Regions from separate parts of the Homo sapiens genome. Here regions 1 and 2 are each linked to region 3. Evidence: fine-mapped expression QTL. A gene starts in region 3. Each other region holds a variant in brackets. All regions are shown on one strand. Distances are between the middles of the regions. Region 1 has its middle 11 kb from the start of KAT5. Region 2 holds the start of LOC124902692 (a long non-coding RNA gene). Region 3 holds the start of SIPA1 (signal-induced proliferation-associated 1).

Region 1 (8,172 bases), 63 kb after region 3:
GGGTTTGGAGAGGCCATATGTCCAGGGCAGTCCTAGAGCTTAATCTGGCCAAATTCCAGTGAAAAGGAAAAAAAAAAAATCCTGCTTCCCCATCACCAAACACTAAATAAGCAGACAGCGAGACAGGCCTCCCCACCTCCTCCCAAACTCCAGAGCTCCCTCCCTGTCTGCTGCCTCCTTTAGCCAGCGCCCGTGGGCATTTCTGACCAAACTCACATTCTGCCTTCTCCAGCCTGAAATCTGGCTTATCTATTCTCTCTGCCTCTCTCTTTTTTTTTTTTTTTTTTTTTTTTGAGACAGAGTCTCGCTCTTTCGCCCAGGCCGGACTGCAGTGGCGCGATCTCGGCTCACTGCAAGCTCCGCCTCCCGGGTTCACACCATTCTCTTGCCTCAGCCTCTCGAGTAGCTGAGACTACAGGCGCCCGCCGCCGCGCACGGCTATTTTTGTGTTTTTAGTAGAGACGGAGTTTCGCTGTGTTAGCCAGGATGGTCTCGATCTCCTGACCTCGTGATCCGCCCGCCTCGGCCACCCAAAGTGCTGGGATTACAGGCGTGAACCACCGCGCCCGGCCATGGCTTACCTATTCTCAAGACATATTCCTCCCCACTCTCAGACTCTCCCCCTATCTCAGGCCTCTTTTACCTCCCAAATCTCTCTCCACCCCTGCCAGGGTCCAAAATCAAGCATCAGCGCTGTTCCCCGCCCGACTTCCACCCTCCCTCACTCCCCTCAACCCGATTCTAACAGACACCCAAACAGGAGAACACAGTGTGAGATTACATCACAGCTCACACACACACACACACAGACACACACAGACGCACAAACACACAGACACACACACACACACACACAGACACACACACACACACACACAGATTTCCTGTTGTCCTGTGACCCTCCCACTCCAGTCCCTGACTCAGGACACAGTAGAACAAAAGAACTCACGATGCCGGTTTCAGTGTCATAAACAATAGATATGGGCCGGCACAGTGGCTCATGCCTGTAATCTCGGCACTTTGGGAGGCCGAGGCGGGTGGATGGCTCGAGGCCAGGAGTTCCAGACCCACCTAGGCAGCATGGCCAAACTCTGTCTCTATAAAAAATACAAAGATTAGCCAGGTGTGGTGACATGTACCTTTGGTCCCAGATACTTAGGAGGCTGAGCGGGGAGGATCACCTGAGCCCTGAAGGTTGAGGCTGCAGTGAGCCATGATCACACCACTGCACTCCAGCCTGGGAGACAGAGTGAGATGCTGTCTAAAAAACAGAACAAAACAAAAACTCCCCCAAACCCAAAAAGATTTGGAAGAATAAATGCTCAGATATTGAGCCAGTCACCTTACCACTGCCCACCAAGGTGATTATGAAAGGATGAGGAAAGGGGAAGAGAGGAACAGCAGAGGTTGTAGAAAGGAGCAGAGGAGTTGGGGTGTCCCCAGGAAGAGCCCATGTCCCAGCCCCCACCACCTCACTGGCCAATGAGAGTCCTCACACCAAATGTCAAAAACCCTGGACCATCTGGGGGGTGGCCAACAGTGAATCCCAAAGACCAAGTCAGGGGCATAGAACAACTTTTTGCAGGGTCAATACAACAGAGACCTCCCACAAGCGAGTGTCCTGCTTTAAACAATTGCCCAAATATAGTTAGTGGGGATTCAAAGCAAACACTACAAAAGAAATATATATTTCAGAGTGGAAAATAAAATGAAATAAAATGGCCAACAGAAAAATTAAATGGCATGAGAGGAGAAGGGACCAAGAGAAGGGGCAACAAGGATGCAATTGGTCAGGCACGCTTTGAGGGACTTTGAATTGACTATTTAGCCAACAGCCTTATTTCCTGGATCACCTGATATGGAGGAGAGGAGGCAAAGGGGACAGTCACCTGTCCGCAAGAGCCAAAATGGTGCTGGCCAGTCTCTAACATGGGGCCCAGTGAAGGTCTCCTCCCCAGATTTCCCCAGCTTGGGCGAGCTTGGCTGCCAAAGGGGGATCAGCAGGTATACTAGCAACATGCCAGCTGGAATATTGGGTCCCACAGAAGGCAGTGCTGCTATGGCTGCTCGTCCATCTGCTTGGCTCCACGGGTTGCCAGGAAAGACAGTGGCTCTTTTTTTTTTTGAGACAGAGTCTCATTCTGTTGCCCAGGCTAGAGTGCAGCGGTGCAATCTCGGCTCACTGCAACCTCCACCTCGTGGGTTGAAGTGATTCTCCTGCCTCAGCCTCCTGAGTAGCTGGGATTATAGTTGTGCACCATCATGTCAGGATAATTTTTGTATTTTTAGTAGAGATGGGGTTTCACTATGTTGGCCAGGCTGGTCTCAAACTCCTGACCTCAGGTGATCCACTGGCCTTGGCCTCCCAAAGTGCCGGGATTACAGGAGTGAGCCACTGCGCTCGGCCAAGACAGTGGCTCTTAAAAATGAACCTTTGGGCTAGTGCTACACCTCTGCAGTGTTAGAAGCTCTGCAGCTTTGATTGCTTGTAGCACTGATCACCTGCTGTCTCTTGCTGATCACCGTCTTGACATCTCTCGCCACCTCTCTCCAACTGCCACCTCCTGCCATCTCTCTGTTGTCTCACTGTCTTGCCAGTTGCTCTCACCACTTCTCTCTAATTGCTATCTATTGCTATCTTTCTGTCCTGTCTCACCATCCCGCCAATTGCTGACCAACAATTGCCAATTTTCTCCTTTCTAGTGTCTTGCTGCCTGTCTGCTAATTGCCAGTCGCTGCCATCTCTGTTGTCTTTGTGGTCTTCATGGTCACCAGGTGATGCAGAACAGGTGAGCCCCAAAATTGGGGCTTAGCCTGGGAGGGTTCTTGGCTTCACACAGGAAGGAATTCAAGAGCAAGACAGTGGTATTAGAGAGCAGTTTTTTAATTGAATGGTACTGCTCTTTGTGGAGCAGGGATAACTCAGGCAGTGCACCTGCAGCAGGCAACCTATGGGCTCTTGGCAACGGTATTTATATTCGCTTATACTCATTTTTAATTATATGCAAATAGAAGGGTGAGTTAATGCAAATTGATGGAGGGGTTATTTAGAACCTTTTAGGAAAGGGGTGGTGACTTCTGGGTCATTGGTGTGGAAAGATGTGGTAACTTCTGGGTCTTTGCCATGGCATTTGTAAACTGTCATTACACTGGTGGGAGTGTCTTATGCTAAGGAACAATGAGGGCAGCTAGGGATTGCTTTTGTCACCATCTGCTGATTCTTTCCAAACAAGACCTGCTGGTCTCCTCTCTTGATTTTAACACTATTAATTCTCTGATTTCATGTGTATGGGATGTCTTCCCATTCGTTTGTGTCCTCTTCAATTTCTTTCATCAGTGTTTTGTAGTTTTCATTGTAGAGATAGTTCACCTTCTTGGTTAGATTTATTCCTAGACTTTTTTTTTTTTTTTTTTTTTTTTTTTTTTTTTTTTTTTTTGCAGCAAGATAAATGGGCTTCTTCATTTCTTTCTGAGCTAGCTCATTATTGGTATGTAGAAATGCTATTGATTTTTGTATGTTGATTTTGTATCCTGCAACTTTACTGAATTTATTATTAATTCTAGGAGTTTTTTGGTGGAGTCTTTAGGTTTTCCTAAATATATGATCATATCATCAGCAAGGAGGGATAGTTTGACTTTGTCTTTTTCAATTTGGATGCCACTTATTTCTTTTTCTTGCCTGATTTCGCTGGCTAGGATTTCCATCACTGTATTGAATAGGGGTGATGAAAGTGGGCATTCTTGTCTTATTCCAGATCTTAGAGAAAAGACTTTCAGATTTTCCCCATTCAGTGTGATGTTAGCTATGGGTTTGTCATGTCAATAAATTGTTATGAAGTAAGTTCTTTTTTTTTTTTTTTGAGATGGAGTCTCGCTGTCGCCCAGGCTGGAGTGCAGTGGCGCGATCTCGGCTCACTGCAGGCTCCGTCCCCCGGGGTTCACGCCATACTCCTGCCTCAGCCTCCCGAGTAGCTGGGACTACAGG[C/T]GCCCGCTACCTCGCCCGGCTAATTTTTTGTATTTTTAGTAGAGACGGGGTTTCACTGTGTTAGCCAGGATGGTCTCCATCTCCTGACCTCGTGATCCACCCGCCTCAGCCTCCCAAAGTGCTGGGATTACAGGCGTGAGCCACCGTGCCTGGCCGAAGTAAGTTTTTTCTATTCCTAGTTTGTTTAGAGGTTTTATCATGAAAGGATATGGAATTTTATTAAATGCAATTTAATAATTGTTTCAATTGAGATAATCATATGGTTTTTGTCTGTGTCTCCTGGGCTCAAGTGATCCTCTTGCATCAGCCTCTTGAGTAGTTAGAACTACAGGTGTATGGCACCACACACGGCTAATATCTTATTTTATTTTTGTAGAGATGGGGTCTTGCTACATTGCCCAGGCCATTCTCAAATTCCTGCCTCAAGTTATCCTCCTGTCTCAGCCTCCCAAAGTGCTGGGATTACAGGTGTGAGCCATTGAATTTCTGTATACCATTTAGAATCAGCTTGTCAATTTCTACCAATCCAGTCTGCTGAAATTTTGATTGGTATTCTTGTTTGAATCTATAAAACTGAATCTCAATTCTCAAAATGAGAAAGGCTTCTTGGAAGCAGTACATATTTTAATCAAATGTATATCTAGAATATGTCATTAACTGTTGCCATGGAGCAATGTGATATAATCTGAACAACTGTTAAAATCAAACCCTTAATTCCAAAAAACGAAAGATAAGCTGTGGTGAGAATGTGAAGAAATTGGAGCCCTAGTGCCTTGCTGGTGAGCATGCAAGAAGGTACAGCCACTGTGGAAAACAGCCTGGCAATTCTTCAAAACTTTAAACACGGAACTATCCTATGATCAAGCAATTCCAATTCTAGGTATATATCCAAAAGAACTGGGCCGGGCCTGGTGGCTCATGCCTGTAATTCCAGCACTTTGGGAGGCCGAGGCGGTGGATCACGAGGTCAGGAGTTCAAGACCAGCCTGACCAACATGGTGAAACCTCATCTCTAGTAAAATACAAAAATCAGCCCAGCGTGGTGGTGCGCGCCTGTAATCCCAGCTCCTCAGGAGGCTGAGGCAGGAGAATCACTTGAACCTGGGAGACGGAGGTTGCAGTGAGCCAAGATCATGCCATTGCACTCCAGCCTGGGCCATAGAGCGAGACTCCATCTCAAAAACAAAACAAAACAAACAAACAAAACAAAACAAAACCTGAAGGCAAGAACTTCAACAGATATTTGTACACCAATGTTGATAGCAACATTATTTACAATAGCCAAAATGTGGAAACAATTCAAATGTCTATCCACAGATGAACGGAGAAACACGATGCAGTGTATACATACAAGGGAATATTCTGTGGCAATCTGAAGGAATGAAACTTTGGCATATGCTACAGCATCGATCAACCTATGTCACATTATGCCAAGTGACATAAGCCAGACACAGAGGGACACATATTGTGTGATTTTACTTATACGAAGTACCTAGAATAGGCAAATTAATAAAAACGAAAGTAGAATAGAGATTACCAGGGGCTGAGGGGAGGGGAATGGGAAGTTTTGCTTAATGGATACGGAATTTATGTTGGGGACAATGAAAAAATTCCAGAGCTGGAAAATGGTGATAGTTACATGACATTGTAGATGTGCTGAATGGCAGTGAATTGCACACTTAAAATCAGCCAGAGAGGCCAGGTGCGGTGGCTCATGCCTGTCTGAAAGGAATTTCTCCTTTCAGTTCTGTCAGTTTTTGCTTCATGCGTTTTGAATTATTGAATGCATACTGTTATGACTTTGATGTTTTCTTAATGAAATAACTCCTTTATAAAGATAAAATGTCTCTTTTAATTCTCAGTAGTATTCTTTGTTTCTCATATGGTGCTCACCCATCAAGTCAAATGACTGATGTATCTCCAGGTCATCCTGTCCTTGCCCTCCAGCTCCACCTTGGATGGGAGTCTACATCTCAAAAGTTCCTGAGATTATGTTCCCTACCGCCCTAGGCATGATGGATCTCAAATCAGAGATTAAGTTTAGTTATGGAGAAAATAAAGAAATAAAATTAAGAAAGTAAAAGTTCTCTGCTTTGTTGTGTTATGACTACTGGCTGGAGGCTGCATGCTCTTTAATGTCACAGACAAGTGCCACTCTGTTCCTCCCATGCTCCCTGCATGCCAGCTGGTCCCACAGTGTCTCTTTCTTTCTTGGCTTCCTTTTTTTTTGTGAGGCAGGGTCTCACTCTGTCACCCAAGCTGGAGTGCAGTGGCACGATCTCAGCTCACTGCAACCTCTGCCTCCCCGGTTCAAGTGATTCTCCTGCCTCAGCCTCCTGAGTAGCTGGGACTACAGGCATGTGCCATCACACCCAGCTATTTTTGTATTTTTAGTAGAGATGGGGTTTCACCATGTTGCCCAGGCTGGTCCTGAACTCCTGACCTCAAGTAATCCGCCTGCCTCAGCCTCCCAAAGTACTGGGATTATAGGTGTGAGCCACCATGCCCAGCCACATGTGGCATTTTAATTCGGCAGGAAAGGGTGGAATTATGTAATGAGAGGCGCTGCAGTCAGCTCACTCCCTATCTGGAAGAAAATGCACCTGGGCCTGTCTCTTACACTAGCCCACAAAACAAATTCCAGAAGAGATTTATTAAATAAAAAAAAAAACCATAATATGAATCTTGTAAAAAAAATGTAAAATATGAGAAGACCTTCTCAACCAAGACTGGAAACGCAGAAGTTATGAAATTTGACAATTTATTTATTTATTTATTTATTTTGAGACAGAGTCTTGCTCTGTCGCCCAGGCTGGAGTACAGTAGCCCAATCTCGGCTCACTGCAAGCTCCGCCTCCCAGGTTCACGCCATTCTCCTGCCTCAGCCTTCCGAGTAGCTGGGACTACAGGTGTCTGCCACAACGCCCAGCTAATTTTTTGTATTTTTTAGTAGAGACAGGGTTTCACCATGTTAGCCAGGATGGTCTCGATTTCCTGACCTCATGATCCGCCTGCCTCAGCCTCCCAAAGTGGTGGGATTACAGGCGTGAGCCACTGCGCCGGCCGAAATGTGACTATTTAAATGTATGCATGCCAAAAGAGGATGGAGACAAACTATAGGGACAAAGGAGAAACTCAGAAAAAATGTTTACACAGCTGAAGGCAATAGCAGCTTAATATCACCCCATAAAAGGGGTTTTTGCAAATCAAGAAGTGGACAACGCAACAGAAAAGTGGGCTAAACATACAGAGGAGCAATTCACATAAGAAAAGTTCCAGTGGCCAACAAACAAAAGAAAAGGTGCTGCTTAATCTGGCTAAAAGATTGGGGAATGCAAAGTAAAGTTATACTACTATACCCATCAGCTTGGCAAGAATTAAAAAGGCTTTGTGGCCAGGCATGGTGGCTCATGCCTATAATATTAGCACTTTGGGAGGCCAAAGCAGGAGCATTGCTCAAGCCAGGAGCTGGGCTACATGTTCTCAGGACCTCTTGAGACTGCGCCTCAGGACAAAAAAAAATACATCTATATCTATATCTATATATGATATCTATATGATATATAGATATAGATATATGATATGGTTATATATGTATGATATATATATATACTATATCTATCTATATATCCTATATATAATATATGGTTAGGCTTTGTATTCCCACCCAAATCTCATCTTGAATTGTAATCACCAGGTGGAGGTAATTGAATCATTGGGGCAGCTTCCCCCATGCTGTCCTCATGATAGTGAGTGATTTCTCATGAGAGCTGATGGTTTTATAAGAGGCTCTTTCCCCTTCGCTCGGCGCTTCTCCTTCCTGCTACCTCTTGAAGAAGGTGCCTTGCTTCCCCTTCACCCTCTGCCTTGATTGTAAGTTTCCTGAGGCCTCCCCAGCCATCCTGAACTGTGAGTCAATTAAACCTCTTTCCTTTATAAATTACCCAGTCTCAGGCTGTTCTTTATAGCAGCATGGAAATCGACTAATACTATATATATACTTATATATATAAGTTGTATGTATAATATACATATATATATGAGCTTTAACATCTATTAATGATGGGGATATGGGGAGATGGAAATTTTCATACTTTTTTGTGGATAAGAGATGTTAATTTTTTAAAACTTAGCTGATATCTAGTAAAATAGAACGTTCTTACATTTTCAGCCCAGCAATCTCATTC
Region 2 (8,172 bases), 57 kb before region 3:
CGAGAGGGTGCAGGCATGGGGCTGGGTACAGGCAAGGCCAGTTCGCGTGCTGCCCTGGGCCGGATCGTCCCCTCAAGCATCACCCCTCCTGGGCAGCAGTTGAACATCTAACCCCAAGGGGCCCTCTGCCCCCAGGCCCAGCCATGAGTCCACTCAGTGCCTGGGAATGGGCCCTGCGCAGCCATCTCTGTCCTCTGGCTTTGCCTCTGCCTCTCCTCCATGTCTGACCTGGCATATGCTGTTCAGCTTAGATGTCACCCCCTGGAAGTCTTTTCTGATTGCCCTCCAGGCTCCACTGTCATCATCTTGCCGAAAGCTGATCCTCCTTGGGACCCCTGCGCCCAGCAAAGGGCTGGACATGGTGGGCGAGGGATGGCGGTGTTGGTTAATGACAGGCTGACCCTCTGCTGCTTCTCCGGCCTCACCCCCAACTCTCTGCCCCTCTCTCTGATGTCACCCTCCAGCCGCAGACCCTTGGACTTGCCATTCCCTCTTTCTCCAGATCCTCACACAGCCCATCCCCCTGCCACTCATCTCTGCCCAGACACCCAACCTCAAGGAGACCCCCAGGGGTTCCCTCACATCACCCTGGAGTTCGCTTGTTAATTTATTTTCCTTCTTGACTGGTAGTCTGCCCCCACCTCCATTGTCCTCACCGGAAAGGTCTTGTCTCTCTTTTGCCCTCCTCTGTCCCCAAAACTGGGCTGGGTTTATGGTGGGCGCTCCACAAACATCTTTGTGCGAAGGGACTTCTTTTATCCCTCGTCTTTGTCTCTCCCTGTGTTGGAGTCTGCGTGTGTGCACGATGCTCACATGTGCATCTGTGTCTGGCATCTCTTGCCAGGTCCTTGTGTTTCTGTGTGTCTTGGTCTCTGTATGTGCCTGTCCCTTTCTCACTTGCTGTCTTTCCTCATAGTCCCTGCCTGCCCACACTGTCTGGGCCTTTGCCCTTCTGCTCTGGCCCCACCCTACCTTAGCAGCTCCACCCTGCACCCTGTGGCCCCAGATAAGGGGCTGCCCAGGCCCTCTTCTGGAGGAGGGGGAGGTGGGCAGAAGGAAGACCCTGAGGGAGCTGGGGGAGGAGGAAGAGGAGATGGGGAGGCAGGTGAGCCTGACCAAGCAGCCTGCTCCCTTTCTCCCTCCCCTTCCCCCTCCCCCAGGCAGCCAGATAAGCTGGTGGTGGTATGGACCCGTCGGAACCGACGCATCTGCTCCAAGGTGGGGAAGGATGGCAACTGGGGATCCAGGTTAGGGATGGGGGCCGGTGGGAGGCTGATGGGGGCTGATGGGGGAGTGGAGTGAGGTTCAAGCACAGATCAGAATCCACAGAGGGGAGGGGAAGATGGTGTCAAGGTTGGTGATAGGGGGTGCAGGTGGGAGGGAAGAGTTAAGATGGGGGGAGGACTCAGATTGTCCCTTGTAGGCCCACAGCTGGCAGCCGGGCATCCAGAACCCATACCGGGGCACCGTGGTGTGGATGGTACCTGAGAATGTGGACATCTCTGTGACCCTCTACAGGGTGAGTCTCTAGCCCTCCAGCATGGATGGCAATTGCAACACAGGCAGTTGCAACAATTGCAACACAGGTCTCCTGGTAGGTTGTTCATCCAGATAGAAGAGGATGCGGGGGGTGAGGCCAAGAATTAGGGGGGCCTGCTCAGCATCACTGGCCCAGGAGGTCTCCTTGGAGGAGGCAGCATTTACCCAACACATGCAGCATGAGAGGCAGCTGGGACCAGAACTTGGGGTGCATCCCAGGAGGAGGTAGCAACCACCGCGTGCACCTGTAATCCCAGCTACTTGGGAGGCTGAGGCACGAGAATTGCTTGAACCTGGGAGGCAGAGGTTGCAGTGAGCCGAGATCGCACCCCTGCACTCCAGCCTCGACGACAGAGGAAGACTCCGTCTCAAAAAAAAAAAAAAAGCCACCACTACCAAGCACCTCCTGAGCCAGACAAGCTCTGCTCCCTTTGCTGCTGCCCCAACAGTCCTGTACTCACCAGCACCCTTCTTCCCAGGACCCCCACGTGGACCAGTATGAGGCCAAAGAGTGGACATTTATTATTGAAAATGTGAGTGTCTGGAGTGGGCTCAGGTCTGGAATCTTGGGGACCCTGGGACAGCACTGATGCCCCTTCTCCTGGTCTCTCCCCTGGCCCACAGGAGTCTAAGGGGCAGCGGAAGGTGCTGGCCACGGCCGAGGTGGACCTGGCCCGCCATGCAGGGCCCGTGCCTGTCCAAGTCCCAGTGAGGCTGCGGCTGAAGCCAAAGTCAGTGAAGGTGGTGCAGGCTGAGCTGAGCCTCACTCTTTCCGGGGTGCTGCTGCGGGAGGGCCGTGCCACGTGAGTGCCTACCTGCCCTCCTTGATCCTGGCCTGTGACCTCTGACTCCACCCTCACCTTTAACCTCTGCCTCCCAGGGACGATGACATGCAGAGTCTCGCAAGCCTCATGAGTGTGAAGCCTAGTGATGTGGGCAACTTGGATGACTTTGCTGAGAGTGATGAAGATGAGGCTCATGGCCCAGGAGCCCCGGAGGCCCGGGCTCGAGTCCCCCAGCCAGGTGGGCTCACAGCCTGCTGTGGATCGAGACTGCCAAGACCTGGGGAGGGAGGGTTACCCGGGCCACCAGCCACTTGCTGTGCCCGCCCTGTGATGGGAACTCATTACTGCCCAGGCAGTCCCAACCAACCCAGCAGCCTCAATTGTCCCAACCTGGCTGCTGGTCCCACGATAGCCTTGGTCTTCAGCTGAGTCCTGGAGGATGGGTTCCCAATGTCTCGCTGGGCTCCTGGGTCCTCTCCTCATCCCTTTGTGGTGCTTGCCAGGCCCGTACCTGACCCAGGACAGCTGGGTCAGAAGCCCGGCTCCTGATCCCTCACCACCAGCCCTCCTGGGCCAGCTGGGGCTTCCTCATTCCTCCCTGCTGCTTGTCCAGGCTTTTTCTCTGTCCACTGTTGAGGTTCTCTCTCTCTTTCTCTCCACATCTGTGGGCCTGTCTCTTCTCGCAGGCCGGGGCGGTGCCCTGAGGCCAGGGCGTTTCCCAGGTAGGACCTGCACTGTAGTTGGGGGAGGGGGTCAGGCCTGTGGGGCCCTGCCCTGGGCTGACTCTGCCCTTCTCCCCTCTCCTACCATTCCCAGATCCCTCTCGAGAGCTGAAGACGCTTTGTGAGGAGGAGGAGGAAGGCCAAGGACGACCCCAGCAGGCAGGTGAGACCCAGGCTGGGGTTGGGGGTGGAGACTGGACCCCAGGTCACTGGGCCCAGGCCACAGTGTCCCCCTCTTTCTTCTCAGTTGCCAGCCCTTCTAATGCTGAGGATACCAGCCCAGCCCCTGTGAGTGCTCCTGCACCCCCAGCCAGAACCTCCCGAGGCCAGGGGTCAGAACGAGCTAATGAAGCGGGGGGCCAGGTAGGCCCTGAGGCCCCAAGGCCCCCGGAAACCTCACCAGAGATGAGGTGAGCTTTGGAACCAGCCTCACCCCCCATTGCCCCCTGATAGGAGCTGCAGTCCTCACCCCCACCAACCTGCCTCCAGGGCCCCAACAGTCTGAAGGGTGGCGGATGGTGCTGAGAGTTGGGGCCAAAGCAGCCCCCCAACTCCCCCTCCTGCTCTCTTCTCAGGTCTTCAAGGCAGCCAGCCCAGGACACGGCCCCCACCCCAGCCCCTCGGCTCC[G/A]GAAAGGCTCTGATGCCCTCCGGCCCCCAGTCCCCCAGGGGGAAGATGAGGTCCCCAAAGCCTCAGGGGCTCCTCCAGCAGGATTGGGCTCTGCTAGGGAGACCCAGGCCCAGGCATGCCCTCAGGAAGGGACAGAAGCCCATGGAGCTAGGCTGGGCCCGAGCATTGAGGATAAAGGTTCTGGAGACCCTTTTGGAAGGCAGAGACTCAAGGCTGAAGAGATGGACACTGAGGACAGGCCAGAGGCCAGTGGGGTGGACACTGAGCCAAGGTCAGGAGGCAGAGAGGCAAACACTAAGAGGTCAGGAGTCAGAGCTGGGGAGGCTGAAGAGAGTTCAGCAGTTTGTCAAGTGGATGCTGAGCAGAGGTCAAAGGTGAGACATGTGGACACTAAGGGACCAGAGGCGACAGGGGTGATGCCTGAGGCAAGATGCAGGGGGACCCCTGAGGCTCCTCCAAGGGGCTCTCAGGGGAGGCTGGGAGTCAGGACCAGGGATGAGGCTCCCTCAGGCCTGAGCCTGCCCCCAGCGGAGCCTGCAGGGCACTCTGGGCAACTTGGTGACCTCGAGGGGGCCAGGGCTGCTGCAGGCCAGGAGAGAGAGGGTGCAGAAGTGAGGGGTGGAGCACCTGGTATTGAGGGGACAGGCCTGGAGCAGGGCCCTTCTGTTGGAGCAATAAGCACCAGGCCCCAGGTGAGCAGCTGGCAGGGGGCCCTGTTATCAACTGCCCAGGGGGCAATATCCAGGGGTCTGGGAGGCTGGGAGGCAGAAGCTGGGGGTTCAGGGGACCTGGAAACAGAGACTGAGGTGGTAGGGTTGGAGGTGCTGGGAACCCAGGAGAAAGAAGTTGAGGGGTCAGGGTTCCCAGAGACTAGGACACTAGAAATTGAGATATTGGGGGCCTTGGAGAAAGAAGCAGCAAGATCAAGGGTCCTGGAGTCAGAGGTTGCTGGGACAGCACAGTGTGAGGGACTGGAGACCCAGGAAACAGAGGTGGGGGTCATAGAGACCCCAGGGACAGAGACTGAGGTATTGGGGACCCAGAAAACAGAAGCTGGGGGTTCAGGAGTTTTGCAGACAAGAACTACGATAGCAGAGACTGAGGTACTGGTGACCCAGGAGATATCTGGGGATTTAGGGCCACTGAAGATAGAAGATACAATACAGTCTGAGATGCTGGGGACCCAGGAGACAGAGGTGGAAGCTTCTAGGGTACCAGAGTCAGAGGCTGAGGGGACAGAAGCTAAAATATTAGGGACCCAGGAGATAACAGCTAGGGATTCAGGGGTCAGAGAGATAGAAGCAGAGATAGCAGAGTCTGACATATTGGTAGCCCAGGAGATAGAGGTGGGACTTTTGGGGGTTCTGGGAATAGAGACTGGGGCAGCAGAAGGTGCGATATTGGGGACCCAAGAGATAGCATCTAGGGATTCAGGGGTCCCAGGGTTAGAAGCTGATACAACAGGGATCCAGGTGAAAGAGGTTGGGGGTTCAGAGGTTCCAGAGATAGCGACTGGGACAGCAGAAACTGAGATATTGGGGACCCAAGAGATAGCATCTAGGAGTTCAGGGGTCCCAGGGCTAGAATCTGAGGTAGCTGGGGCCCAGGAGACAGAGGTCGGGGGTTCAGGGATCTCAGGGCCCGAGGCTGGAATGGCAGAGGCCCGAGTACTGATGACCCGTAAGACAGAAATTATAGTTCCAGAGGCTGAGAAGGAAGAGGCTCAGACTTCGGGGGTCCAGGAAGCAGAGACTAGAGTTGGGAGTGCTCTCAAATATGAGGCTTTAAGGGCCCCAGTCACTCAGCCAAGAGTTTTAGGATCCCAGGAAGCAAAAGCAGAGATTTCAGGAGTACAAGGGTCAGAGACTCAAGTTCTGAGAGTCCAGGAGGCAGAGGCTGGGGTTTGGGGGATGTCAGAGGGCAAATCTGGGGCTTGGGGGGCCCAGGAAGCAGAGATGAAGGTTTTAGAGTCTCCAGAGAACAAATCTGGTACTTTTAAGGCCCAGGAAGCGGAGGCTGGGGTCTTGGGAAATGAGAAGGGGAAAGAAGCTGAGGGAAGCCTCACAGAGGCCAGCCTGCCTGAAGCACAGGTGGCCAGTGGGGCAGGGGCTGGGGCGCCCAGGGCCTCTTCCCCAGAGAAGGCTGAAGAGGACAGGAGGCTGCCGGGCAGCCAGGTAGGGATGGGGGCCGCCGAGGGCCCAGTCTGCTGCTTCCCACTAACCTGGGGCTGAGCGAACGGCGGCTCTGCATGGACCCACCTGGTGGAATGGGATCGGGTGGGGTGGGGGGCTCAGCTTGAAGGAGCCCCCTCATCCCCTCCTCTCTCAGGATGCCCTGGCTCTCTTACCCCATCTTCCCTGGGCCGCATGGAGCTGGACACCTCTAAGCTGATTTTCTGGGCTGACTTTGAGGTGTGGCTGCTGGTGACCTCTGATCTTGTCTGGGGGCCACTGACCTTTTAGGTGACCTTGGCAGATAACCCTGGATCTAGAAACCCTTTTACCTGGCCCCAAGGCTCTAGCCAGTGGTCTCTGGTGACCCCTGCAAGCTCAGAGATGGGGCTGTTGTGTGCCAGGCATGAGCTTCCCCAAGAGGCAGAGGGCATACATCCCATTTATACATTCCCTAAGCCCACCCCTGTGTCCTCAGGCACCACCTGCCCTGGTCAGCTCCAGCCAGTCCCTGCTGGAGTGGTGCCAGGAAGTCACCACTGGCTACCGTGGCGTCCGCATCACCAACTTCACCACATCCTGGCGCAACGGCTTGGCCTTCTGTGCCATCCTGCACCGATTCTACCCAGACAAGATGTGAGCTGCCAGAGGGGTGGGAACGAATGGGGGAGCCATCAGGGAGGGCAGTGTGGACCCAGCCTCTGACCAGCACACTCTCTGCAGTGACTATGCCTCGCTAGACCCACTCAACATCAAGCAGAACAACAAGCAGGTGAGATGGGGTGGGGGACTGCCTGGAGGGAAGGAGGGTCTGGAGAGCCAGGCTCTCAGTGTCAGATTTGGAGAAAGTGGACTGCCGGGCCCAGCAGTGGCTTCTGGAAGTTCTGCCACTTTTTACCCCTTTGGTCATTAAATTGTTTGTTTTCCTTATTTTCGTTTGTTTGTTTTAAAGCGTTTTTCCTCCCTTAGATGGTTTTTCCAAAACCACCCTTTGGTAACGGGGTGGACGGTGTGCCGTTGCTAAGCAACGCGAGGGCGGGCCTTGTTGCTGGATTTCCCTCGCTAGGAGGGGGCGGTGTTGCTAGGCAAAACCCGGGGTGCCAATCCCGGGGACCCCCTCCGTGGGGCGGCACTGCAGCGTTGCCGGGTGGCGCGGGCCACCGCCGCCGCTGACCCCGAGTGCACCCTTCCCCTAGGCCTTCGATGGCTTCGCGGCTCTGGGCGTGTCGCGGCTGCTGGAGCCCGCGGACATGGTGCTACTGTCGGTGCCCGACAAGCTCATCGTCATGACGTACCTGTGCCAGATCCGCGCCTTCTGCACCGGGCAGGAGCTGCAGCTGGTACAACTGGAGGGCGGCGGCGGCGCCGGCACGTACCGCGTGGGCAGCGCCCAGCCCAGCCCGCCCGACGACCTGGACGCCGGAGGCCTGGCGCAGCGGCTGCGCGGTCACGGGGCCGAGGGGCCCCAGGAGCCCAAGGAGGCCGCAGACCGCGCAGACGGGGCGGCCCCGGGGGTGGCCTCCAGGAACGCGGTCGCGGGCCGCGCCTCCAAGGACGGCGGGGCCGAGGCCCCCCGAGAGTCGCGACCCGCGGAGGTCCCGGCCGAGGGGCTGGTGAACGGGGCGGGGGCACCGGGCGGCGGCGGCGTGAGGCTGCGACGGCCCTCGGTCAACGGGGAGCCCGGGTCGGTGCCCCCGCCCCGCGCGCACGGCTCCTTCTCCCACGTGCGCGACGCGGACCTGCTCAAGAAGAGGCGCTCGCGGCTGCGGAACAGCAGCTCGTTCTCGATGGACGATCCGGACGCGGGAGCCATGGGAGCTGCGGCTGCAGTGAGTGTCAAGGTCCTTCTTTCTTCCCCCGCCGCAGCGCGGGGTCCCGGGAAGATGGGCAGAGAACGGGCGAGCCCCCAAGGGGCCCCAAGGACAGAGCTGGCGCGAGGGTGACGGTTTCAGAGTGGCGGGGCTCGGCTGGACCCAGGAGGGGCTATCTGATCAGAGGGACCCTGGTGCTGTGGAAGAGTCCTCTGGTGTGGTAGTGAGCTCCTCATTAGGGGACGCATTTGAGCCAAGGCCCACCAGGCAGGGTCCCCAGCTTTGCGGCCAGCCTGGGATAAGTGCTGAGGGTTTTTAGTGCTTGGCACTTGGTGTGGGGAATCAGGCTGCAGAAGTTCCCGGAGCATCCACGTTCCTGGCACTCTGCCCAGTGCTTGGTAGGCTGGAAGGTGGGTTTGGGCATTTCTTTCCCTGCAGGTGGCTCATCGTTAACCAGCAGCCACCCTGCCCCATGAGCTGGGTGCAGACTATCTGTACTCAAGGGGGATTCTCCAG
Region 3 (8,172 bases):
GGGGCCTACTGCCGTCCCCACCCCACCTCTTCCACGAAGAGCACTGTGGTCTCTGGCCACAGTGGCCACAGAAACTGCAGTGGCCCTTCCTGTTGGGGTACCTCTTCTCCCACGGGCAGGGCACTTCCTGGTCATGACCTTGCCTGCTCCTCAGTGCTCTGTGAGAGACATGGGCAGAGATTGGCCTCTTTGTCAAGATGGGGAAACTGAGGCTCAGCGTGAGGAAAGGCCTCTGCTTGGATCACTCTGAAGCCTTACCCCTGGGTCCTCGACACCCCTCTCTCCCCTCCCTGTTTTTCCTCCCACTTAGCCTGGAGCCCTTCCTCTACGGCCTGCACGCCCTGTTCAAGGGGGATTTTCGCATCACCTCCCCACGTGACGAGTGGGTCTTTGCCGACATGGACCTGCTTCACCGCGTTGTGGCGCCTGGGGTTCGCATGGCCCTCAAGCTTCACCAGGTTGGGGAGGGGTGTGCCCAGCAGCATGGGCAGGTGGGGGATGAAGCCTCTCTCCAGGGCAGGGGCCACTGACCCCTGTTCCCGTCTTCTCTACCAGGACCACTTCACGTCCCCAGATGAATATGAGGAGCCAGCAGCCCTATACGATGCCATTGCGGCCAACGAGGAGCGGCTGGTCATCTCACATGAGGGTGACCCAGCATGGCGCAGCGCCATCCTCAGCAACACGCCCTCCCTGCTGGCGCTGCGCCATGTCCTGGATGATGCCTCCGACGAGTACAAGATCATCATGCTCAACCGGCGCCACCTCAGCTTCCGAGTCATCAAGGTTGGGCCGGCCCCACCTGCCCTAAGCCCTGCCCCAAACCCCCTTGGGCCGGCCCCCTGACCCTGGCGTGTGGCTCTCAGGTGAACCGGGAGTGCGTGCGCGGCCTGTGGGCCGGGCAGCAGCAGGAGCTGGTGTTCCTGCGCAACCGCAACCCCGAGCGTGGCAGCATCCAGAACGCCAAGCAGGCGCTTCGCAACATGATCAACTCCTCCTGTGACCAGCCGCTGGGCTACCCCATCTACGTGTCGCCTCTCACCACCTCGCTGGCTGGCAGCCACCCCCAGCTACGGGCACTGTGGGGTGGCCCCATCAGCCTGGGTGCCATTGCCCACTGGCTCCTGCGCACCTGGGAGAGGTGAGGCCTCGGGAAGGGGTGACGTGTGGCGCGGGAGGAAGCTGAGGTGCAGTACGTCCCTCCTGGGTCTCAGAGGGAGGACGTGCTGGAGCCAGGGCTTGAATCCCGAGAGATGACCCCCTCCCAGAGCTGACCTGCCCCTCCTAGATGTCACCTTACCCCCAGAGCTGACAGTGGCCTTTAGTCATCAAGCACTGTTGACAACGCACCCTCAAAAGACTCTGCAAAGTAGGTGGCAGCTTCTTAGAGGGGAGGATCCTGGGGCTCAGAGGTGTTAGATGACTTGTCCTGGGGCTGAGGACTCATGCTTGTGAGGCCTCTGGCCTCAGCCGTGTCCCTCCTGATCCCTTTTCTACCTCTCCACCCCCAGGCTTCACAAGGGCTGTGGCGCCGGCTGCAATAGTGGCGGGAACGTGGATGATTCAGACTGTAGTGGGGGCGGTGGCCTGACCTCCCTCAGCAATAACCCCCCCGTGGCACACCCCACACCTGAGAACACGGCAGGTGAGCAGGCGAGGCTGGGCTGAACCCGTGGGTGAGGAGTGCAGCCCAGCTGAGGCCTCTGCTGTCTTATCTGTCTCCTACAGGCAATGGTGACCAACCCCTCCCACCAGGCCCTGGCTGGGGGCCGCGGTCCTCCCTGAGTGGCTCTGGTGATGGGCGGCCCCCACCTCTGCTGCAGTGGCCTCCCCCTCGGCTCCCTGGACCACCCCCTGCATCGCCTATCCCCACAGAGGGTCCCCGGACCTCACGGCCCCCTGGCCCGGGTCTCCTCAGTTCTGAGGGCCCCAGTGGAAAGTGGAGCCTGGGGGGCCGGAAGGGGCTGGGAGGATCTGACGGGGAGCCAGCCTCAGGGAGCCCCAAAGGAGGTACCCCCAAATCTCAGGTAAGGCACCTGTGGGAGGGTTGGGTCCCAGAAGGCTAAGGCCTGCTCACCCGCCAACCTCTCCCCCCTCCCCCAGGCGCCTCTAGACCTCAGCCTCAGCCTCAGCCTCAGCCTCAGCCCCGATGTCAGCACTGAGGCCTCACCCCCCAGAGCTTCCCAGGACATTCCTTGCTTGGACAGCAGTGCCCCTGAGAGTGGCACACCTATGGGTGCCCTGGGCGACTGGCCTGCCCCTATTGAGGAGCGTGAGAGCCCGGCAGCCCAGCCCCTGCTGGAACACCAGTACTGAGCTACCTGGCGCCCACTGGACCACCTCCTAGGATTCAGTAACGGACCTGCTCTGCTGCCTCTCTGCTGGACCACAGAACTGAGTGGCTTTGGCCTACATGTCTGAACCCTGACCTTTGGCTGCCTTGGCCAGAGTACCAAAACTGAGTGACCCAGACCTCTGACCTTGACCCCTGATCTCTCTCATCCCCAGTCCAGGGCCTGGGCTCCCCAGATGGAGGCAGTCAGCCTCCCAGCCAGGCCCTAAGAGCCAAACCATGGGCTGGTCCCACTTGGAGCCTGTGGCCAGGACCACCTCAGCCCCTGGGCCTGCACTGCCTGCAGGTGTGGCCCCCTTGGCCTGGACCTGGGGCCTGAATTGTGGGAAGGGTGGTTTCTTTCTTTCCTTTTTTTTCTTTTCTTTTTTTTTTTTTTTTTTGTGCTTCGGAGACATCAGAATTAATAACACTATTTTTGATTTTGGTTGGCAGTTTCTTTTTCTACCTGGGAATGGGTACATGATAGTACAGGCGGCTAAGTTGGGATGGACAAGCACGCAGAGGGGTGAAGGATGTGGGGCTGAAGTCTAGTAGAGATCAAGGGCAGACCAAGGTGGGGTTCAGGTAGAACCGGGTCCTCTTCACCGCATGGCTGCTCCCTTTTCAAGCCTTTATCTGAAGGGTATTGTCTGCCATTTCCCACCATATGGTCAGACTTCCAGGTCTGGTGGCTCCTACATTTATCAGGCTTGTTCTTGGCCAAAGCCTTTCTCTGCACCTCAGCTGCTCCAGGGCGTAAAGAGATGACACCTATCTAAGGTGTTTTTAGAATAAATGAGAGCGCGCTAGTGGAATGGTTGCCCAGGGCCCAGTGCTTAGCAAGTGCTCCATAAAATAGTGGCAGACTCTTGAGCACCTGCTGGCCGGGAGCTGGACGCTAGGTGGCCTCCGCTAGCCCTCCCGGTTGGTCTGGAAGGCAGGCACAAGTTTCTCAGGAGAGGAAATGGCCTTAGAATGAGCACTGCTCGGTGCTGACCTCCGCCAGGCCTGGAATCCCCGCTGCTGCGCTTCCCGCCGCAGACAGCTCCCGGCCGGCCCCGCCTCCCGGCATGGCCCCGCCTCCCAGCATGGCCCCGCCCCCAGGCGGAGCCGGCGCCGGGAGCGGTAGCGGGAGAGCGGCAGCGGGACCCCAGCGCGGGCGGCGGCGGCTGGGCGGGAGCCCCAGAGGTACTGGCGGGAGCAGGGGACGGGAGGCACTACTGTCGGGCCCGACAGGGGAGAGGTGGCCTAGCCGTGGGCCCGGGTGATGTGTATGGGAGTGGGGTCCTCGCCACGTTCGCCGCCAGCACCCTCCCAACTTCCCTCCGGGCTCCAGCTCAGTCCCGAGTCAATATGTCCAGCCCCCTGTCTCTGACCAGCCGTTCCTACTCTCTCTGTGTGACGGCTTAGCCTGGCCAGCCAGCCGGTGAGTGGAAGCGGCGGCTCCTGACTCCTGGTGGCGGCACTGTGACCCCCTCCCCCTCAACACTGCAAGTGTGTGCGGGGCTCCCCCTTATTCTGAGGCTCCTCTTCTTCTTAGGCGGCCTCCACCCCAGTCCCTGGCCTGGCCTGGGAGGAAACATCTGTCGCGCCCCCTGGCAGCCGAAATGGGGTCATGACCTCCAGATGTGCTGGGAAGTGGCCAGCTCCTCCTCCTGGGGCAGCCAGGCCTTCCGGATCTGTGGGGGCGGGGCCGGCCCTTTCCCCCCACCCCTAGTGACACAGGCCCGGAGGAATGTCCTAGCCTCAATGGACCCTGTGTGAAGCTTCAGGGTGGGGGGCAGAGCCCGAGAACACCCCTCAAGGCAGCGCCAGAGCCTGGCACTGGGCCACAGCAAGAGGCAGCGCACAGGCTGGGTGCACACATGCACAGATCTCACTTCCAAGCGTGCAGAGCTCAGCCCACAAGGAGCGGGGCTTGCACAGACCCCCTCCCTCATGCCCTCCTACTCCTTCACACACTATAGCCCAGGCCCGAGCGCTGAATGTGCCCAGAGCTTGGCTCATGGAGCCAGGGGCTACACCCGTCACACACACACATAGCTAGCGACACTCACCTCATTCTTCTCAGTCTCTCAGCAGCCTTGGGAGGGGACAGAAATAATTAAACCCAATTTTTTTCTTTGTTTTTTTGGAGACAGTCTCACTCTGTCCCGCAGGCTGGAGTTCAGTGGCGCGATCTCGGCTCACTGCAACCTCTGCCTCCCAGGTTTAAGCGATTCTCCTGCCTCAGCCTCCTGAGTGGCTGGGACTACAGGTGCGCACCACCACACCCGGCTAATTTTTATGTTTTTAGTAGAGACAGGGTTTCACCATGTTAGCTAGGCTGGTCTTGAACTCCTGACCTCAGGTGATCCCCCCGCCTTGGCCTCCCAAAGTGCTGGGATTACAGGCCACAGCCACCGCACCCGGCCAGTTAACCCCATTTTAGAGATGAGAAAACAGAGGCTCAAGGTCAGCATGGGAGTTTATTCAGGAGAAATCAAGGTAGAAGCACCTGGGCTGGGGAGCCGACTCTTGCTTGGTTCTGGAGGCCCCAGACGAAGGGTGTGTGGAGCCCCTCCTCCACCCCCCTCCGGCCCAGCCCCGCATGATGTTGCTGGATGCTGCATGAAGACCCACCATTAGATGCCTGTACCCCCAGTGGAGGTTCCCCAGCTCCCTGTCCTCACTGCCTACTCCATCCAGGGCTTGCCTGGGTGTGGCTTCCCTCAAGTTCTCACACCACCATTTGCACCTGCCTCTGGCGTCACGTTTCCGCACTTAGCAGGTCCCTGGGGCTTTGGGTGTCTCAATCTTGCATCCTGTGAGACCTTGAACCTCAGCCCAACACCCACCCCCCAAAACCTACGCACACAGACAGCAGTGGGCAGGTGCAGCCCTGCTTAGGGCCTGGAGATGGGCAGACCCAGGCTCACATCCTAGCTCTGACACGGAATTGCTTCAGGCAAGAGCATCTCCTCTGGACCTCATCTGACCATCTGTCACATGGGGTTCAGACCTCCCTGTCTGCATCAGTGAGACCAGGTAGGCAGAGGTCCCTATGGGTCCCTGTCATTGTGACTCCTCTTGCCCCCAAGCCTGGGCACAGTAGCCTGCAAGAAGGTGAGTTGGCCTGTCCTTCAGGGCAGGGTGACTGGGGTCCCATGACAGCTGCTGTGACCCCAGCACCTTCCTCAGGATGTGGGGGCCTGGCAGAGGGCTGGGCCCACAGTTGGGGCTACTTCCTGTGCTGAAGGAAGTCCTCTTGCCATTCCTGCTGCCCTGCCGCTGCCTCCCTGGGAACCCATGTGTCCTTGTGGTATTGAGGCCTTGAGGTCCAGGGCACTGAGATCAGACCTCTCTGGGTGATCAGCTCTCCAGGGACCCTGAAGGAAGTGGGAGGGGCAAGGAGGAAGGTCTCTGGGGACAGGACGTCCTCCCTTTGTTAAGTGGGCAGGACCCAGACACCAGTGGCCCCTGGGTTTCCCGTCCCAGCCAATACAAGTCATCTGTCCGGTTGGGCTAGGTCCTGGTGGGACCCTTACTCTGGGCCCAGGCCAAAGCTAAGGTGTGTGGGTGGCGACTGGGGGACCCTGGCAGTCCCAGGGCTGCCCAGGCTCCAGGACCCTCAGGACCAAGACCCAACAGCCCAGCCTCTAGCCTTGCCCAGCTAAGCTGGGGAGGGGGCTGGAAACTTTAGCCCTAGGCAGACAAGGAAGTGGCCTGGAAAGCGGAAGCAGCTTTGATGGTCTCGGAGGGGGCCGGAAGCCAACACGGGTGGTGGAGGACCAGGCTGGGGGCCTGGGTTCCTGTTTTCTGCCCAGGCCCCTCTGAGCAGCCCCCTCCTCCTTCAGGGCAGGAACTGCTGCCACAACCTCAGGCTGGGCACCAAACACCCGTGCCCGCCAATGCGGCCCAGCCCCCGGAGAGTCAGGCCCACAGAGCATGCCCATGTGGGCCGGCGGTGTGGGGAGCCCTCGGCGGGGCATGGCCCCTGCGTCCACAGATGACCTCTTTGCCCGCAAGCTGCGCCAGCCAGCAAGGCCCCCGCTGACACCGCACACCTTCGAGCCGAGGCCAGTCCGGGGCCCACTCCTGCGCAGCGGCAGCGATGCAGGCGAGGCCAGGCCCCCCACGCCAGCCAGCCCCCGTGCCCGTGCCCACAGCCACGAAGAGGCCAGCCGACCTGCAGCCACTTCCACCCGGCTCTTCACTGACCCGCTGGCACTGCTGGGGCTGCCAGCAGAGGAACCAGAGCCTGCCTTCCCACCAGTGCTTGAGCCTCGATGGTTTGCCCACTATGACGTGCAAAGCCTGCTCTTTGATTGGGCTCCGAGGTCTCAGGGGATGGGGAGCCACTCAGAGGCCAGCTCTGGGACCCTGGCTTCAGCCGAGGACCAGGCTGCCAGCTCGGACCTGCTGCATGGGGCACCTGGCTTTGTGTGTGAGCTCGGGGGTGAGGGTGAGCTAGGCCTGGGTGGACCAGCATCCCCACCTGTGCCCCCTGCACTGCCCAACGCGGCCGTGTCCATCCTGGAGGAGCCACAGAACCGAACCTCGGCCTACAGCCTGGAGCACGCAGACCTGGGTGCTGGCTACTACCGCAAATACTTCTATGGCAAAGGTGAGGAAAGGCAGTTCCAGGGAGTGGAGGAGGGGGGCTGAAGAAGAGGTCCCTGTCACCTGCAGTGCACACAGTAGGGCTCATGAACTGTCCATTTCCTGTAAAGTCCCTGGCCCTGGGAGGGCTCAAGAGCTGAGCTGGGGTCCTCCTGGACCTACTTTCAACCACCTTCTTAAGGCTAATCCCTGGCTCCTCACCCCCAGCCAGGGCTGGTCCCTCTGCCTCCGTATTGGTTCATCCTCCATCTGGTTCAACCTGCCAGGCTGGGGAGAGATTCCCTATGGGCTTTTCTGTGGGGTGAAAACTCAGGCCTCAAATCCCTGCATCCGTGAACCTTGTTCGCACCAGCACTGCGGAGAGAGGGCTCCAGGACATAGAAGGGAGAATGAGGGCGTGGTGGGTGGAGCCAAGGCAGGATTTAGGCCTGGGAGCTGGCCGCGTGGGTCTAGGTCTGGGTCTGGGTCCACCTCTGGGTCAGGGTTGAGATCAAGATATTGAGCTCGGGGCTACAGAGGGGCGGGACTTAGTCTAGGGTCAACATTTGGTGGTGAGATGAAGCCTAGGGCGGGGCTTAGTGATGCGCGTGGTCGAGCGGGGGCGGGGCTGCCAGAGGGCGGGACCAATCGTTTTCTTCGGCGCGGTCCCCCAGAACATCAGAACTTCTTCGGGATGGACGAGTCGCTGGGCCCGGTGGCAGTGAGCCTGCGGCGGGAGGAGAAGGAGGGCAGCGGAGGGGGCACCCTGCACAGCTACCGCGTCATCGTGCGGACCACGCAGGTGGGCCGGGATCGCGGGATCAGGACGTGGGTTGCCTCCCCGACACCTTGTATGCATCCTGAGTGCCCTTACACCCCTTCCTCAGCTCCGGACACTCCGTGGCACCATCTCGGAGGACGCGCTGCCGCCGGGGCCCCCACGGGGTCTGTCCCCAAGGAAACTTCTGGAGCACGTGGCGCCGCAGCTGAGCCCCAGCTGCCTGCGCCTGGGCTCAGCTTCACCCAAGGTACCACGGACGCTGCTCACACTGGATGAGCAAGTGGTGAGTGGCGGGCCGCGGAGCCCCCAGCCATACAGCTGGCCCCAGTCTGAACCCAGCCTGCCCAGCTCCCAAACCCCTAGCCTTGACCCTGATCCTGGGCTGGGTGGTGACCCCAGAAGAGCTGGCTTTTCAGAGACAGGGCATCAGAGTTCATCTGGAGCCTTGCGTCTCAAAGTGAGCTCTGTAGACCAGCAG

The links. PIP is the estimated chance that this variant, and not a neighbour inherited with it, causes the effect.
Region 1: its variant is the best candidate, but not a certain one, in a credible set for the expression of SIPA1 in blood mononuclear cells (TOPMed, PIP 0.88).
Region 2: its variant is the best candidate, but not a certain one, in a credible set for the expression of SIPA1 in monocytes after Pam3CSK4 (Quach 2016, PIP 0.86).

Annotation. Positions count from the first base shown.
Region 1 is chr11:65,697,465-65,705,636 of GRCh38, forward strand. No RefSeq gene overlaps it. Among named protein-coding and RNA genes, the nearest start is that of KAT5, 11 kb to the right of the region's middle. The variant C/T (reference allele first, on the strand shown) is at 3,986.
Region 2 is chr11:65,577,918-65,586,089 of GRCh38, forward strand. It overlaps EHBP1L1 (EH domain binding protein 1 like 1), which reads left to right. Exons shown (of 19, transcript NM_001099409.3): 2 at 1,161-1,218; 3 at 1,424-1,519; 4 at 2,019-2,072; 5 at 2,164-2,342; 6 at 2,420-2,562; 7 at 3,141-3,209; 8 at 3,294-3,456; 9 at 3,622-5,848; 10 at 6,324-6,481; 11 at 6,569-6,617; 12 at 7,042-7,674. It overlaps LOC124902692 (a long non-coding RNA gene), which reads right to left and starts at 3,164. Exons shown (of 2, transcript XR_007062731.1): 1 at 2,715-3,164; 2 at 2,039-2,601. The variant G/A (reference allele first, on the strand shown) is at 3,675.
Region 3 is chr11:65,634,663-65,642,834 of GRCh38, forward strand. SIPA1 (signal-induced proliferation-associated 1) reads left to right here and starts at 3,439. Exons shown (of 16, transcript NM_006747.4): 1 at 3,439-3,520; 2 at 6,169-6,938; 3 at 7,588-7,715; 4 at 7,801-7,977. The coding sequence starts at 6,260. It overlaps PCNX3 (pecanex 3), which reads left to right. Exons shown (of 35, transcript NM_032223.4): 30 at 311-458; 31 at 556-786; 32 at 867-1,141; 33 at 1,512-1,645; 34 at 1,729-2,027; 35 at 2,104-2,777. The coding sequence ends at 2,316. It overlaps MIR4690 (microRNA 4690), which reads left to right and starts at 1,648; the gene lies at 1,648-1,707. RefSeq lists enhancers at 2,260-3,050, 4,002-4,071 and a silencer at 3,282-3,651.